2 separate regions of the Homo sapiens genome follow, and region 2 is linked to region 1. Evidence: fine-mapped expression QTL. A gene starts in region 1. The other region holds a variant in brackets. All regions are shown on one strand. Distances are between the middles of the regions. Region 1 holds the start of ANKIB1 (ankyrin repeat and IBR domain containing 1). Region 2 overlaps ANKIB1 (ankyrin repeat and IBR domain containing 1).

What was found. PIP is the estimated chance that this variant, and not a neighbour inherited with it, causes the effect. A credible set is the group of variants that fine-mapping cannot tell apart.
Region 2: its variant is the best candidate, but not a certain one, in a credible set for the expression of ANKIB1 in whole blood (INTERVAL, PIP 0.88).

What each region holds. Positions count from the first base shown.
Region 1 is chr7:92,241,976-92,250,684 of GRCh38, forward strand. It overlaps ANKIB1 (ankyrin repeat and IBR domain containing 1), which reads left to right and starts at 3,999. Exons shown (of 20, transcript NM_019004.2): 1 at 3,999-4,544. KRIT1 (KRIT1 ankyrin repeat containing) reads right to left here and starts at 3,939. Exons shown (of 19, transcript NM_194454.3): 1 at 3,815-3,939; 2 at 2,927-3,196; 3 at 2,027-2,174; 4 at 59-162. The coding sequence starts at 160. RefSeq lists an enhancer at 3,820-4,114 and a silencer at 4,045-4,434.
Region 2 is chr7:92,394,766-92,403,474 of GRCh38, forward strand. It overlaps ANKIB1 (ankyrin repeat and IBR domain containing 1), which reads left to right. Exons shown (of 20, transcript NM_019004.2): 18 at 1,600-1,711; 19 at 2,958-3,094; 20 at 3,447-6,618. The coding sequence ends at 4,184. Among named protein-coding and RNA genes, the nearest start is that of GATAD1, 48 kb to the right of the region's middle. The variant G/A (reference allele first, on the strand shown) is at 5,077.

The sequences.
Region 1 (8,709 bases):
AATGATAATACAGAATGACATTCAATGGTAGAAATAAATTATTATTAAATGTTCTTACTTCATATGACTTAGCTCTGTATTCCCGAGAATTGAGACTGGCAGTATTCTTTGGACGAATAACAGCAACATATGCATCTTCTATGTTTTCTGGATTTCCCATTGCTTTACAAAACAAATAAAAAAATCCTTTGAAAGATTAAATGACACATTTGATGGCAAGATAAAAAAAAGTAATGCATCTTAAATTGAAAACTTTTATTTCCACATAATCATGTCGAAAAAATTAAAAAAAAATAAAATGTTCTCTATCCTAGAATATACAGTGCCTAAAAGGCAAGCCAGGAATGACTTTGACTGCATCTTTACTGTTCAACTACTCAAAACCTTAGCTGATAATTTAAGATTTCCTTTGTATTTCTTTTTTCATTTTAAAATAGGGTTATACATTTTCATAGGTGTTAACTGCATAGTAAGAATCTGCCTTTGGGGCCAAAAAAAAGTGATGATGATTATAAAATAACTTGTAAATAATGACTTGAAATAGTGATTCAGAATAATATACACTTTTTCCATAAATTACAAAAGTGAATGTTAGTTATACTGTTAACAGTTTGGAAGCTGGAAATGGTAGATGTTTTATATCCATTGACATTTACTCCAGAACTTTCAGCAAGGATAACTTTGATATCAGACATTTGGATGAGCTAAAGCGTAGTATGTAATTTTCTTTGGAGTTGCTTATCACAGAACCAAAACTATTTGGTCAGTTGATAAAAGCTTTCTGAAGGTGATTTAAGAATCTTTTCCATTTCCCTTATCAATTTCCTTGATAATCCAAATTTTTGTTTTGTTTTGTTTTAGACAGAGTCTCGCTCTGTCACTTAGGCTAGAGTGCAGTGACAATCTCGCCTCAATGCAACCCTCGCCTCCCGGGTTCAGGCGATTCTCCCTCCTGCCTCAGCCTCCTGAGTAGCCAGAATTAACAGGCGTGTGCCACCATGCTCGGCTAATTTTTGTGTCTTTTAGTAGAGATGGAGTTTTACCATGTTGGCCAGGCTGGTCTCAAACTCCTGACCTCAAGTGATCCACCTGCCTCGGCCTCCCAAAGTGCTCGGATTACAGGCGTGAGCCACCACACCTGTCAATAATCCAAATTTTTTATTCCAAATATATTCACTGTGTGTGTGTGTGCGTGTGTGTTATGCATATACTTTGTCCCACTAAATCTTAAGTCTCCATTGCGCAATTTCCAACAAGTGACTGAATTTCAACCACAATCTTAGTTGTATAATAGTTTTCTTCATTGAATAAATTTCTTTCATGGCTACACTAAAGTGCATCTTTCTGTACTGATTATTTTTTATCTTTTTTTGAAAAAGCTTCTCCCCATTTATTTGTCAGTAAATTTCTAAAAGAACATTAAAGAGTTTCTTTCCCAGCTATGTTGAGATGAACTTTCTTCAGTTTTTTAAAAACCATTAGGCATTAAAATTACCTGTTCATATTTAATGAGTTCCCTACTGCTGCAACTCTCAAGATAGACCATTTTCAAGAAAGGGTTTTGAATGTTATTTGAGAGGCGATAGAGTAATTTATCCTGTTTCTTCCACTGCAACTGAAAATGTCACTCTGTAACTTTTAATTCACTTCCCTAAATAATAATTAAAAAGTGCCTTATGATTGTAAAATTACCCTAAGAAGAAATTCTTTTAAAATACAGTAGCTTTTGGCATTTTACATAAACTTTAGCCTAAGATTAAAACAACCATTAAAATTATTGTACAAAAATTTTAAATAAAATAATTTAAATACTTTTCAAATTTATTTTAAATTCTAAAACTTTCCATTGATTTAGATCCAAAAAAACCCTACAGATATTTCACTAGAAAAAAATACAGTGACACATTAGGATAGAGACATTTCATTGTGTGAAAGGTTTTGAGGACGTTATCATTCTTTATCATTATATACTTCATGAAATTTTTTTCAGTTCAATTTTTTGTATAAAATCATTCTTAAAACCCACCTCATGCAACAGACCTTCCTACATCATGTGAAAAGGATGAGGCCTTTTTCTTCTCAGAATTTCTATTTAGCAATTACTTTTCACCACAGATTAACAATGACTTCAAGATAATAAACGTTTACAAATTATGAGACAGACGCATTGAAGACTGCAAGCCCCAAAAAGAAAGACATTGTATTGTGAATACACTGTATGATATATGGGCACAATTACAGAAACCATTTTATCTATTAAGGACCTAAAAGAAAAATCAAGTAACTCTTACTTTTCTAAAGACAATTTAAAGCAAATCAATTCCTGTCTTGGTCAACTCATGTTAAGAAAACATTTACTAGCAAAGTACTTTGTCAATACTCATCACTTCTCTAGAATATTTAATTAATACTGCACAGAAGCCTGAACTTTTAAAAGGTAAACAAATGTGATTTTAAAAAGACATAACTATGACAGTAACAGTATTTTGTTTTCTTAAACCAAATACTTTTTTACCATATCCCCAAAATATTCTTAAAATTCATTTTCAAGAACTATTCGTACTTGACTACTTAAAATCTACATTCTTCCAGTGACATGAAAGAAGGAAACAAAGGCTTAACAGGAAAATAACAAAAGTAACTAACATAGGAAGGTAAAACTGCTAAGGGAGAAACACAGACAAACTGATAGAAAATGAGTAGCTTGAACTAAAATACAAGAAAGGTATAACTAGAGTTTGCAATATGTTTAGACTGAGTCTGAGATGAGGGTTCAAGTGAATAAGTACAGGAAACGTGGCATTTTGTTATATGGCTCACTCCATTCTGGAAAATGTTAGGCACAAATGATAATATGCTCCCTAAGTAATAAGATCTTATAAATAAAGCAGTGGAAGTGGTCCTTAATTAGGGGGGTGGCACCTACCTGGGATCACTGGAAAATATGGAGGGCATTTCTGGTTGTCACTATGACTGATGAGGGGAGATGTACAACTGCCATTTAGTGTCCATGGAACAGGTTTGCTAACATCCTCTTAGTATGCTAGACAGCGTTTGCAAACAGAAACTGTAAAGGCACATATGCACTCCAGAAGGGTAAGAAAATAATGAGGCTGAGATCCTGAGTTGGACCACCGAGATGAAAGACTTCTGGTGAGGCTAAAAACATGTAGAAAAAGCGATGAAAGCCAAAAACCTTAAAAGGTGGAGAAAAGTGTAGAGGCGAGAAGTGAGTTACAGGGGGAGAAGTGAGTTAGAATGACAAGCTGTGAATCCCTTTCCCTGCAATGACAAAAATACGTAATCACTCTGCCTGGGAGGTTTTTTCCTGCGCCACCACCCGTCAACGTCCACTACTGGGGAAAAACGTAAGCCTCTTTGCTCAAAGAGTTTCCACCCAAAAAGTGGCTATGGTTTCTCTGTAACTACATGTGAAAAATAAACTCCTTGCCTGGGGCAACTAGATGTGGAGATGGTTCAGTCTCCCACCTCCGTTTTCCCTCGCTGGAGTCGAACTTGCTCCTCCTGTTTCCCGAAGGACACCGAGAGGTCCCACCCGTACGGGCTGCCGCGAGTGCCTCTCTGGCCGCTACATTCAACTAAATGGGTGGGACAGTCACCTGGCGAGGGGGGGCAGGGACCGTCACCGCTTTCTCATTCCTCCTTCCCTCCTCCCAGGCACAGCAGCCCGGCCCAGCTTCCTGTGGCAGAAAAACCCTCAGTCGCCAAAAGAAAGCCGTCTTGAGGGTTCCCCCGCGCTCCCACCCGCGCCCCAAAAGCTCAGGTCTCTGGAGTCGGAGACCCTCCTGCCCACCTGCTCTTTACTGTCCTTCCCTCTCCTCGCACCTCAGCACCATTCACCCCTCACCCTCTCCCGAAACTACGGGGTCCCAGGTCTTCAAAGGCCTTAGCTTTCCACCCCGCCGTTACCGTGGCTATGAAATCGCTTCCGGGTTCACACCCTTTGCAGCCTCGCGGTTGGCGGTGAAAGAGCTTCCGGGTCGGCGGCCGGGCTGCTGCCGTTCCTGCTCCTTTTCACTGGACCTGCAGTCTCTCAGGGGCTGGTGGCAGGCGACTAGGAGACTAGGGTGGTGGCGGTGGGGGTGCCAGCGGCTGAGCCGGAGCCGGAGCCGGAGGCGGGGGAGGGGAAGAGGGCGGCCGGGGCTGCGAGCGCGCAAGGCTGGAACATGAGCCGGGCTTGACCGCGAGGCGGAGGCAAGAGCCACCGCCCCCTCTTCCCCTCCCCCGAGTGAGGCGGCGCAGCGGCCGGAGAGGGATGGGGGGCGCCCACCCAGTCTGAGCCTCGCCGCGGGCGCCTTCGGCTCACGCAGCGCTTCCCGCGGGCCGCCAGTGCGCACCCTCGGCCACATCAGCCTCCGCCTGGCGGGTGCACCCGGGCCGGCGAGGAAGGGGCAACCGTCCGGGTGGGTGGGGCGGGCTGGGTACCTGAGGTCACCAGCTCGGCTGTAGAGGCAGGGGCGGCGGAGGCGGAACTGCGGAGTTGCTGGGTCCACCGACCCTTACCCTCAGCGAGAGAAGTAACCGTAAGTCTCAGCTTCGCGGTACAGATGTGTTTGAGGCTGCCTCTACCCATTTGTGGCTCCGAGTTCAGAGCTACCTACTTCACACCCTCCCGGATCTACTAGGAGTGTGTCTGTCGCCTGTTTTGGAGCATTGTTGTTCTGTCTGTCCCCATCCCTGAACAGGCAGCATTCTCTGCCCTACAGGGCTTTTCTCCCAGCGAATTTGCAAGCCTCCGGGTCTCCGTGACGCGTCCCATCCTCCCCATCTGGATGCATCTCCTTGTCCCTCTGTCCTCAAAGGATCTGTGTCCTTCCTCGCAGCCTCCCCCCCACCCCCATCCTTTGAGACGTGGAAAGCCACGGGTTCTGCCGACCTCGGGGGCTAGAGAGAGTCTTGAGAAGCGGATGGGTAAAAGTGCTCTGCAGGGCTGTGATGGGTGGGGATAGGTGCAGATGGCTCCAGTGAACCTTTATTTTTGCAGCTTCTGCCACCAAAACAAAAGAATGGAGCGCTCCCCTGTATTCTTATTCTTCTCCGTATGTATGAGCTGTTTTTCTGTACGTAGCTGTTTGAGTCGCAGGAAATTGAAACTAGAGCTGTAATAAAGCATCTCCTGAGGAGATTTTGAGAATTAGTCTCCCAAGCTCTATTCACACGGAATGGCATATCGAACAATCTTGTATTGGAATGACCATTTCAGAAGAGCTTTACTGGTAGATCTGACAGATAAATGTAAAGATAAGAGTCTGCTGTTTCAAATAGTGTATTTTAGATACCTTTAAATTTTAGTGTTCTAATTTTCATCTAGTTCTTAATTTGTGAAGTATGTGGGTATGTGTAAGGTGTAAAAATCTGTGTATTGGAAGGTTTTGCTTTGTTACAAGCTTTTGCTTTGTTGCTTTTGAGACAGACGTTTAAAGATCATATTAGATTGTATTTGATAATTATTTTCAATCATTAATTCCAGAGAAATCTTTTTTTGTATCAGCCACTCACAGATGTTACACACCTTGGTGCCTATGACCCTCCTGCTGCTTAAACTGTGAATGTCTTCAAAGTATATTTTCAGATTTTTGAACTAGGCGTTTTTTCTCATTAGAATTTGATTTGCTTTTCAAACTGCTCCTGCAGAACTTTCCAGAAATTAGATTTAAAAATAATTTTAATGCTGTCAGTGATTGGACAATAGCTCTTATATGACTTTATGCATTTGCTACTTTTCAGAGCACCATAGGAAGCAAACGATAATTTAAGAATAATTTTACTGTGTACTGCAGGTTGTCATTCTGCAAACTACTGTGTAGTGTAGACTGGTAGCTTTGGTGTTTTGTGTTGCTGAAAAACATTGTCATTTCATTAAGAAAGATGGATGTGTTTAATGACTTTTCCCCCCAACCTCCTTTCAGCAGTTGATTTTGGGCTATTATCTGATTTGTAACTTCTCACTGTTCACAGATTTTAATTTGAAGTAGGCTCAGGAGATGTAGCTCCAACTCTGTCTCTGGAAATGTACTTAGCACAGAAGCCAAGCACTGTGCAGAGTTGAGTGTATTATTAAGGGTGTGGCTTTTGCTTTCTGTAAAATTGTTCAGTTTCTGAATAAGAGTAGGGTGCTATAGTGAGGTGATGGGCGCTATCTTGGAGAAGTCTTAGAAAAAATGTTGTTGATTCTCTTTTCCTTGGGGTAGGATGGGGAAGATAGAACTATATTTTCCTATTTCACTGTTCCCTTGACCACTACACCGAGAATTTTGAGTTTTCAATATGTAAGGAGTCTGAAACTGTGCCAACTGTGCTGTAAACAAGGGCTCTAACAGGTAGGTGACTCCTGAAACATGGGAGGGAAGTTTTGTTAGCCACTCTTTTGTACTCCTGTGGCACTGCCCACTTCTCAAAGAGTGGGTTTTCTTTCCTCTTTCTTTTCTGGGGTATGCACTCAAACTTGTGAAAGTGAAATATGTGTATTTACAACTTGCTTGTAGATAAAAGTGCGAGCTCATTTTCATATATAAGTAGATGGAAGAACTATGAATTAAGTTAATCTGAATGTCCTTGAAATGAAGTTGGAAAAGATTCCTCAGTGCTTTGGGTAATTTTTCCCCCATTGAGGATGCATATGACATTTATTTAGATTAAGTTTTAAAATATTTCCTTCAAATATTTGACACATTTGCCAAAAAGGATTTGGGAGTGGACTAAGTCATTATTAAAGAGACCAGTCTGTGGGAGTTTTTATACATTGATCTAAAAATGTTTAGGTTTTTAATTTACTTTTCAAAGTGACTTCCTTAGGGGGAATGGTAATTTTTGGATTCTCAGTTTATTTTTCAGATAACCTCAGACTGCCTCTTTCTTTTCCAGATACTTTTTTTCTTTTTTCTTTTCTTTCTTTTTTTTTTTTTTTTTGAGATGGAGTCTCATTCTCTTGCCAAGGCTGGAGTGCAGTGGTGTGATCTTAGCTCAGTACAACCTCCGCCTCCTGGGGTCAAACGATTCTCCTGCGTCAGCCTCCCAAGTAGCTGGGACTACAGGTGCCCGCCACCACACCCGGCTAATTTTTGTATTTTTAGTAGAGACGAGGTTTTGCCACGTTGGCCAGGCTGGTCTCAAACTCCTGAACTCAGGTGATCCGCCTGCCTTGGCCTCCCAAAATGTTGGGATTATGGGTGTCAGCCACTGCGCCTGGCCTTCCAGATACTTTCATGTCCACTTCATTTCAGTAAACCTTTGTTGAGCATCTACTGTGTGTGCCAAGCACTTTTATTAGGTTCTGGAACTACCAGGGTAAATTAGTCAAGGTTCCTTTCCTCATTGAGGTTACCAGTCTAGATATTTGACTGTGATTTCTATTCACCTGCCTTTATTGGCTTCTCTTACAGGTTTTTAAGCCACTTGACCCTGTTGCAAGGTTGTTTCATATCCTGTGTATAAGAATAAGCGGCCGGGTGCTGTGGCTCACGCCTGTAATCCCAGCACTTTGGGAGGCCGAGGTGGACAGATCATGAGGTCAAGAGATCAAGACCAGCCTGGCCAACATGGTGAAACTCTGTCTCTACTAAAGATACAAAAAACTAGCTGGGTGTGGTGGCACGCCCCTGTAATCCCAGCTACTTGGGAGGTGGAGGCAGGAGAATCACTTTAACCTGGGAGGTGGAGGTTGCAGTGAGCTGAGATCGCACCATTGCACTCCAGCCTGGGTGACAGGGTGAGACTCTGTCTCAAAAAAAAAAAAGAATAAGCACAATAGATGCCATTTATTGAGTGCCTAATTTGTGCCAGTCACCATGCTAAGTGCTTTACATACGTTATCTCATTTAATCCTTAGAACAGTCCCAAAATATATTTTATCTCCATTTAAAGATCTCCCCCCCCACACGCGAATAAACTAAACTAAATTATTTTAATAATAAAAAGCCATACAGAATCTTGTGTATAGTATTACTGGATTTTTTTTTCTTGTAATATTCTCGAAAAGATTTGACTTACAGTCCTTAAAGGGGAGAAGCTGTCGTACAGTCATTAACAGTTTTTAATTCTCTAATATTGCTTTGAATAGAAAAATCCTAATTTCATAAGGTACTAGTATATCTTGTGTTCTAAAGCAGATAATTTGGCTGGGTGCAGTGGCTCACACCTGTAATCCCAGAACTTTGGGAGGCTGAGGCAGGCGGATCACCTGAGGTCAGGAGTTCGAGACCAGCCTGACCAACATAGAGAAACCCCATCTCTACTAAAAATGCAAAATTAGCCGAGCGTGGTGGCACATGCCTGTAATCCCAGCTACTCGGGAGGCTGAGGCAGGAGAATCGCCTGAACCCAGGAGGCAGAGGTTGCAGTGAGCCGAGATCACGCCATTGCACTCTAGCCTGGGCAACAAGAGCAAAACTCCGCCTAAAAATAAATAAATCAATAAAGCAGATAATTATATACTATCAAAAATAATTTTCAGTCATTGTTTAAACTTTTGAAAAGACATAATTCTAAAGTTCATTATGGTTAACTGTAACAGATCTTCAGGCATGTTTACCTTTTTTTCCCTCTAGTTCTACAACGGGACCACAAGCTTTTAAAATGTGCTAAAAATGTGTGTATTCTCCAGGAAGGGTAGAGTATTGAGCCATGTGAAATCTATTCAGCTTTTAAAATTTTTGAGTTTGATTTTGGCAACTAAGGGCCTTGGAGAGT
Region 2 (8,709 bases), 150 kb after region 1:
CAAGGCATTTTAAAGAACCAGTATAAACCCTCAGGGCACTTGGAGTATCTTTCATTTATTAGTTTCTAACCTAACAGGATGCCTCCCACTTCTTAAGAGTCCAACTGCTTATATAAATAAAGGAGTTTAAATAAATGTCACCAGAGTGGTATGATGTGAAAGTTTTATTTGTGATCCAAAATTTGTCTTCACCTACTTCTAGTACTTTCACAATATAAGCATATTGAATATTCTAGGGTAACCAGGATAATCATAAAGTTGAATATCTTAGTGTTTATCATGGAAAGACACCATAATGATTCTCTAAATTAGCCTTTTTATGTTGGTATCATGTACCCTGGCCTCCTCTCTTCTCTTCCCTTCTCTTTTATTCTCTTCTCTTCTGTCACATTTATACCCAGGTAATAGCGATGGTCCCAGGTTGTACCCTCTGGTGATAACAAACTAACTTTAAACATTGTCACAAATGTGGAATAGGCTGAGGACATCTGCCTAAGTCTGTGTTCATCCCATATGCTAAATAGAAAACATTTCCCCTGCTTGTGTTGTAAATAGCACCACATATTGGCTTATATAGAAAAGAAGCTAAATAATCATCTTATTTTAAAGCTAACCTAACATTTGTCTTTTAATCTAGTCATTTGATTTGTGAATATGATATGTAGTAGTCCCAAAGAATAGAAAATCCAACAATCTGGCAAGTACTTAACAGTGTGTGTTATTTTTTACTGTTGTTCCTTTTTTTCTTTTTCTGTTACATATATCCCAGTCACTTTTTTTTTTTTTTTTTTTTTTGAGATGGAGTCTTGCTGTTGTTGCCCAGGCTGCAGTGGCACAATCTCGGATCACTGCAACCTCCACCTCCTGGGTTCAAGTGATTCTCCTGCCTCAGCCTCTCGAGTAGCTGGGATTACAGGTGCCACCACCACGCCCGGCTAATTTTTTGTATTTTTAGTAGAGATGGGGTTTCACCATGTTGGCCAGGCTGGTCTCAAATTCCTGACCTCAGGTGATCTGCCTGCTTCGGCCTCCCAAAGTACTGGGATTACAGGCGTGAGCCACAGCACCCACCCCTGGTCACGTTTTTAAAGCCACTTTCATATCCAGTTTCAATGGCTCACACCTGTAATCCCAGCTACTTAGGAGGCCGAGCAGTAGGGATTGCTTGAGGCCAGAAGTTCAAGACCAGCCTAAGCAACATAGCAAGACTCTGACTCTAAAAATAAAAAAATAAAAAATAAAAAACCTCCCTTCAAGGAAAGCCTTACTTAAATGAGTAATATGGTTGTAGTATTAATTAGATAACAAGATCCTTGAAATCATCAGGCATATAAAATAGGGCTGTTCTAATGTAGCACTGGGGCTTGCAAGTATTCCTAATTTATCTAGGCAATTGTAATGACTGTTGAAAACTTTCTTTTTCCATTTTACCTTTTGTGTTTCCTTGGCATGGCAAAACCTGATGTTTCAGCCAAGTGATTTTATAAGATGTGTATAAAATCACAAACTTTTTCCCCTGGAAAAAAGTGTGTACTTTGTTTTATTTGCATTTTAAAAATTGCATGCTCTCTTGTATTTTATAACCTTTGGTTTATGCAGGAATATGCTGAATTTCAGTATCGGAGGAGGCACAGACAACGTCGTCGAGGAGATGTTCACAGTCTACTCAGTAATCCTCCAGACCCTGATGAGCCAAGTGAAAGCACTTTAGGTAAGTCCTTGCATTGAGTATGGTTTAATCTCATAGCTCCCCTGAATTTATCCTTCAAACTGGCTGATGTAAATTTTTGTGAACGAGTTTGTCATTTAGATATACAATAAATATGCAGATGTTTCTGTTGTGACAGGACACAGAAAATCAGAGGAGTTAGGAGCATGGTCTGTGGAGTTAGGCAAACTTGGATTCATGACCCCATCTCTGCTGCATATTAGCTGTGTAACCTAGTCAGGTCACAACCTCTCTAAGGTTGTTTCCATATTCTAAAGACACAATAATAATAGTGCCACCTTATAGGCTCATTGTGAGTATTAAATTAGATAATGCATCTAAAACACTTAAGCACCTAGTGAAGCACTCAGTTAATTGTAGTATTGATTGATACTGTTTTGTGTTCATGGAATATTTGTCTCCTAGCCTTAGTTGTCCTGTAGACATTATTTAAAAGAGAGAGAATTTCTGGCATTAGAGATAAATTATTTTAATTATTCAACTTTTAAATGTTAAATTATTAAGTGAAAATCTTCTGACTATAATGTCAGGATCAATGGGACTAAAGATTTGCTCTTCAGACTATTGTAATTCCCAAATTATTTAATTTTAAGAAATCTAAAAATGAAAAACGTTTATTAGTTATTGCTTAACAAAAAAAGAGAAATGGATAGTAGCACTTGCATTTATGAATAGAACTATATAGACTGCAAGCAAAAGTGTAAAAAAGTCAGCCAGGCACGGTGGCTCATGCCTGTCATCCCAGCACTTTGGGAGGCCAAGGTGTGCGGATCACAATGTCAGGAGATGGAGACCATCCTGACCAACATGGTGAAACCCTATCTCTACTGAAAATGCAAAAATTAGCCAGGCATGGTGGTGCACATCTGTAGTCCCAACCACTCGAGAGGCTGAGGCAGGAGAATCGCTTGAACCCAGGAGGCAGAGGTTGCAGTGAGCCAAGATTGCGCCACTGCACTCCAGCTAGGTCGACAAAGCAAGACTCCATCTCAAAAAAAAAAAAAAGTAAAAAGTTACGGATTTGAAGTGATAGTATCATATATATATTATTCTTCATGGTAAGACAAATATGGATGAGAAATCCCAGAAAGATTAAGTGAACATGTCAACACAGGTTTTCCCCAGCACTGAAAGAGAAATTGCCCATCTAAACAACCAGATGTATGAAAAAAATAAATAAGTCTTATTTGTCACTAAATTGTCTTTGGTACCAATTGCTTTGAAACAGATATTCCAGAAGGCGGCAGCAGCAGCCGCAGGCCTGGCACATCCGTGGTAAGTTCTGCATCTATGAGTGTGCTGCACAGCTCTTCCCTGCGTGACTACACCCCTGCCAGTCGCTCTGAAAACCAGGACTCTCTTCAGGTAGCCTTTCTGAACAGCCTCATTGCCTGTGCTTTTACTCTTTCTCTGCTGAGTGTGGTTTCCTGTTGTTACTTTCATCGCTTTCCTATTTCTTCCTTCCATTCTAAAATCTTTGTTTTAAAGATGTGCTGCAGGAAAAGATATTCCTATATTTTAGATTTATTTTAAGGTATGTTTTTTTTTTCCTTTAGCATGGGCATGGAGAAAAATACAAGATTTTAGTAGATAAAATAATTTTTCTGTATAAATAAAATTAATAATCTGTTGGTAAAGGAAGAATGGTAAACCTGATTGAGTTAAATCAGTTTTTTTCAGTCAAATTTTAAAGTGGTTTTGCTTTCTGTTGCTTCAGGCTCTGAGTTCCTTGGATGAAGACGATCCCAATATACTTCTTGCAATACAGTTATCACTGCAAGAGTCTGGGCTGGCCCTCGATGAAGAAACTAGAGACTTCCTCAGTAATGAAGCATCCTTAGGTGCGATAGGCACTTCTTTACCTTCCAGGCTGGACTCTGTCCCCAGAAATACAGATAGCCCTCGGGCTGCATTGAGCAGCTCTGAGCTTTTGGAACTTGGTGACAGCCTCATGAGACTAGGAGCAGAGAATGACCCATTTTCAACTGACACCCTGAGCTCACACCCTCTCAGTGAGGCAAGAAGTGATTTCTGTCCCTCATCTAGTGATCCTGACTCAGCTGGCCAGGACCCCAACATCAATGACAATCTTCTCGGCAACATCATGGCTTGGTTTCATGACATGAACCCTCAGAGTATTGCCCTGATTCCTCCAGCAACTACAGAAATCAGTGCAGATTCCCAGCTCCCCTGTATCAAAGATGGGTCAGAAGGTGTGAAGGATGTGGAACTGGTGCTGCCAGAAGATTCAATGTTTGAAGATGCCAGTGTCAGTGAAGGTAGAGGAACCCAGATAGAAGAAAATCCTTTGGAAGAAAATATTCTGGCGGGGGAAGCAGCATCTCAAGCTGGTGACAGTGGTAACGAGGCAGCCAACAGAGGAGATGGTTCAGATGTTTCAAGTCAAACACCTCAAACCTCAAGTGACTGGCTTGAACAAGTACATTTAGTGTGAACTGCACACATCTGGGCTCTAAATGAATTACAGGTACAGATGGTATGCTAGGTGGAGTATGCTTGATAGAGACTTTGATTCACTTAATTCCAACTCAGTGATAAACCACTGACATTAGGGTTGAATACAGAGAAGTTCCCTTGAATGGTAGCTTCATTTTTTATTTTAACCTTACAGGGAATTTCCTTTGTACTTAATTGAATAGCTTTTCCCCTTTTTGCTGACAAAAAGAAGAGCAAGAGAAAGAGAAACAAAAATGAAATAAATAAGTTGTATTCCACACTCTAAGAAAATGCAGTCCTCTATTTAGCCTAGGCTTGACAATACTTAAATTGAACATTTAAACTAAAGGCTTACTCCCTAATCTTTGGGTGGCTTTCCTTTAAAAAAAAAAAAAAAGTTTTCTTCATTCTAGAAATTTATTTTGGATAAATCCGATAACATATATGTCCTCAATCTCTTTGTGCTCTTCCATAACTTACTTCCTTTTTGTCTGAGCAATGTGAATTGAAGTCTCTTTAGTACCACATCTACCATAGTGTAATTAGTTTTAATTTTCACATGAATCAAAGGTTTCCTTTCATGTCTATTTACAGTCCAATTGTGCCAAACTCTTACTTGTGTGCTGACTAACAAGGCATTTAGGTGTGCAGCATCCTAGAGTGCTCCAGGGCAGTGTCAGCGTTCTCGGGAGTAAAAGGTGCCACTTGGTAGCAATGATATTCCAGAATTAAATGGGTTTTTGTTGCCATGGAGACTGCATTTATATAAATGTAGCCTGTAGCTTAAGTTAACTAAACCTAATGCTGCTGTTAAAAACAGTTTATTTTAATATTAAAATACAGTTGATTAGCAACAGCGGTGCTGTATTTTAAGAGACACTTTATTGGAA[G/A]TGCAATCATAGTTATTTGTTTTCACAATTTTACAGTGCATTCTAATTACTGATGGGTGCAATTACTTTTAATCGTGTTTTATAAAATAGAAAAAAAGTGGAGTTTTCATGAGTTATAGTAAATCCCACGATTATTAAGAAATTCAGTAAAACATCCTGCGCAACATGTTACCGTGCCTTTGCCTAACCTAAATGGATAGTTGCCAGTTAAATAAGTGAGTAATTCAAATTTCAATGTCTCTTCTGAAGTAACTATGCTATGAATTGCAAAGACCTCCATAAAACCACCCATGGCCTTGCTTTTACACTAACTATAACAACTAAATGTTCAATCAGTTTGTTTGCCTAACTAGCAAATGCTGACATGTGTTTGTTCTACTGCGCAATACTCATTTGCTGTGTGATTACTGTTTAGTGTTGAAAAAAATCAACTTCCTAGTTATCAGTGTCTTACTGTGAAGAAAATACTGGTCTTAGTTGTAATTAGGATACAATGGTACAGTGTGTAATTAAAACTAGAGTAAACTGTTGGAATGGCTGTTTTACTTAAATATTATCAAAACTAGCATAACATAAGCAAAATAGATAAGTACAACACTCCATTTAGTGTTTTGCCAGATTGTTACCAGAAGTCTACAGATACCAAACTTTCAGTTCTGAGTTTGTACAGGCAAGTCCTGGGCTGGGTAAAAAGTTATATTAATATTGTTATCCACAAGAGATGTGATTATGGGTTTTGATTACTTTTTTTTTTTCCAAACCCTGCTTTTGAAATATCCTTGTACTTAAAATTCATATTGCTAAGACACTGTATTAGAATATTTAATATTCCCCAGATCCTCTTAGGATAAACTGTGGGAATCCTCCTATGCCATGGATATCAAAGGTCCACATTAGTTTTTATTTCTCCAGTGATCAGAAACATTGATATCAATCCCTATTAAATTAGTGGGGGGAATATTAACTTTATCTACAGTGTATTACTGTATATTAAACTGAAATAGTCCATTAAAGGATTTTTTTATAAATTTATTTTGGATTAAAAATATCAACACCAATAAGTTTTTAGACCAAGTTGTAATTTTTCCAATATAGAGTCTTTGCATCACACTGAGGCATCTTGCACAGCTGCAGTTAAGGTGAGAAAGAATGCTCTGTGTGAAGACAGTGTACACAATGGGTTCCGGTTTCCTTGCACCTTGTGCAGTATCCTTTATTTCTGTGCTGTTCTCTCCTGAGCATGAAAAATGATCATTATCCAATTTGTATTTCCTTGGTACATATTTTAAAAACAACACAGTCATTGACTTTACAATTCAGTAATGAAGTTTGGCAAAGCCTATTTTGTAAACAAGTTAATTTTATAATGTAAAAAAAAAAAGTTAATCTAACCTTGACTTGTTATTTGCACTTTCATAGTCTATACTTGATACATTCCCACTTTATATACAGTAGGATTCTACAAACGTGTAGATGTTTGGCCAAATGAATGCTGTTAATAATATGTAAAATTCTTTGATTAAACATTTATTACTTAAACTACTTCCATTTTGTCTCATTACATTGTAGACTTTGTTTTAACCAAGTCAGAAAGCTGATTTTCTTCAAATTAAATCCCTCCAATGTGATGGGATCAATTTGGTTCTTACATGTAATTGATTAGTGCCTAATATTTTTACACTAGCCACTTACTGAGCATTTTATATCCCAGTTATAAATATGAAAACACTGCATGACAATGTGTTAAAACATTATGACATCAGTGCTCATTTTATTGACATCACTGTAGCTTTCAGGAGAAAAATGTTATTTTTTCTTGAACTCTAATAGAAATACATAGAAAAATAACTTTAAGATATGTTTTGTGAAATTGCTTAGGAAAGAAAAAAATTTTATGCCATGTGAATAAAAATGCCTGCTTCTCTTTCACTTTATTATTGTGTCCCTTATGAGTTACCAAAATAACCCATGACATTTGACCATGCCCCAGCTGGTGCTTCATGGGGTCTGCTGGTGATAATCATTTAAAGTGGCGTCATCTTATTTATGCCTTTCATTATGTGGATCTGAAGCTTAACTACCAATGTTCATAGGCTGAATTATTCCTTAATTGTTGTTCATTACAGCCACTGATCTCATTTTTTATCTCCTTTGAGTCCTCAAATATTTATCATTTACGTGTTATGAATTAAAATCTGGAATTTATTAAAGTTTGATCATAATTTAAAAGCAGTGATAGTATATCTCTGAAGAGTAAAACCTTGGAATCTAAATATTAAGTGATAATACAAACTTTGGGGGTGTTTTAAGGCTGAAATAACTCCAAAGGAAAAAATTTTTCATGCAGTCAGCTCTTGGACTGAGTAGTAGGTTTTTTTTTGTTTGTTTTCTTTGTTTTCTCTTCTGAGAAAAACAAAGGATCTTACTCTGTCGCCCAGGCTGGAGTGCAGTGATGTGATCATAGCTCACTGCAGCCTCAACCTCCCGGGCTCAGGTGATTTTCCTACCTCAGCCTCCCAAGTAGCTGGGACTACAGGCACATGCCACCATGCTCGCTAATTTTTGTATTTTTTGTAGAGACGGGGTTTCACCATGTTGCCCAGGCTAGTCTTGAACTCCTGGGCTTAAGAAATTCGCCCATCTGGGCCTCCCAAAGTGCTGGGATTACAGGTGAGAGCCACTGTGCCTGGCCCAGAAGTTGTTTCATCTCAGCATTGTGCTACAGGCATAATTACTGGGTCTTCTCCTTGGCAACATTATATTGTCTTGTCAGTTGTTACAGCCTTCTCACCGGAATGAAAGATTTCTTTCTAGAAAGATAGAAGTGGCTTCTTCTAGACTGTATTATGTGACAGTACTTTAGGAACTGGCAGTAGACTTATTTCTTAAAGATGAATCAGAAAAGTTTCCTTTAGACCTCAGTTCCACTTAGGACTCACAGGTAGCTGACAGACTTAGTGGTGGCCAAACTTCTGAAGGAATTATTCTTCTTCACTCTTTGAAACTGCAATTTGACAATATTCTTAATCAAGCTGTCTTCATGTCTTAGCCAGCTGTCCCATTAAGTATTTATTGCATAAGTGCCTAGCCTGTGTGAGCCATCAGTACATAACAGGTTGAGACAAACACATGAGAGTGAACAAAGCCAAAGTACAAAAAGGATAATTGTTGGAGGATTCAGTCAGGCCTCTTATCTTACTAGGTGTGCCAAGACTGCAAGGCCCTGTTGGCAATTTTGCCTGAGCCATCTCAGGATTTATGTAACTAGTAACTTGAGATCAAGGAGCAGGCTTAACTGCTTAAGAAGTGGATTCCTCACACCCAGTGTTCAGCTGAACTACAACATGAACCCCACCGTGTGCTTGCTGTCCATCCAGGTCCTTTGCATTGCCCCCTTGAAACTGGAGACAAGGGGAACTGATGCAAATATGCTGAGGTTCATTCTGAGTGCTGTGCCATGAGTGATAAAGTCCTTTGCCTCTGACTCAAGAGTCTCATGTCTTCTGTCAGCATTCTTGAGATTGTAACAGGCTAACTTACTCGTTTGTCAGTAGGGTAAAGTGAAATCCTGGAACTGAGAGTTTTGGCAACAAGGATGGGATGCTGACAAAGACATGATATTCTGAAAAAGGA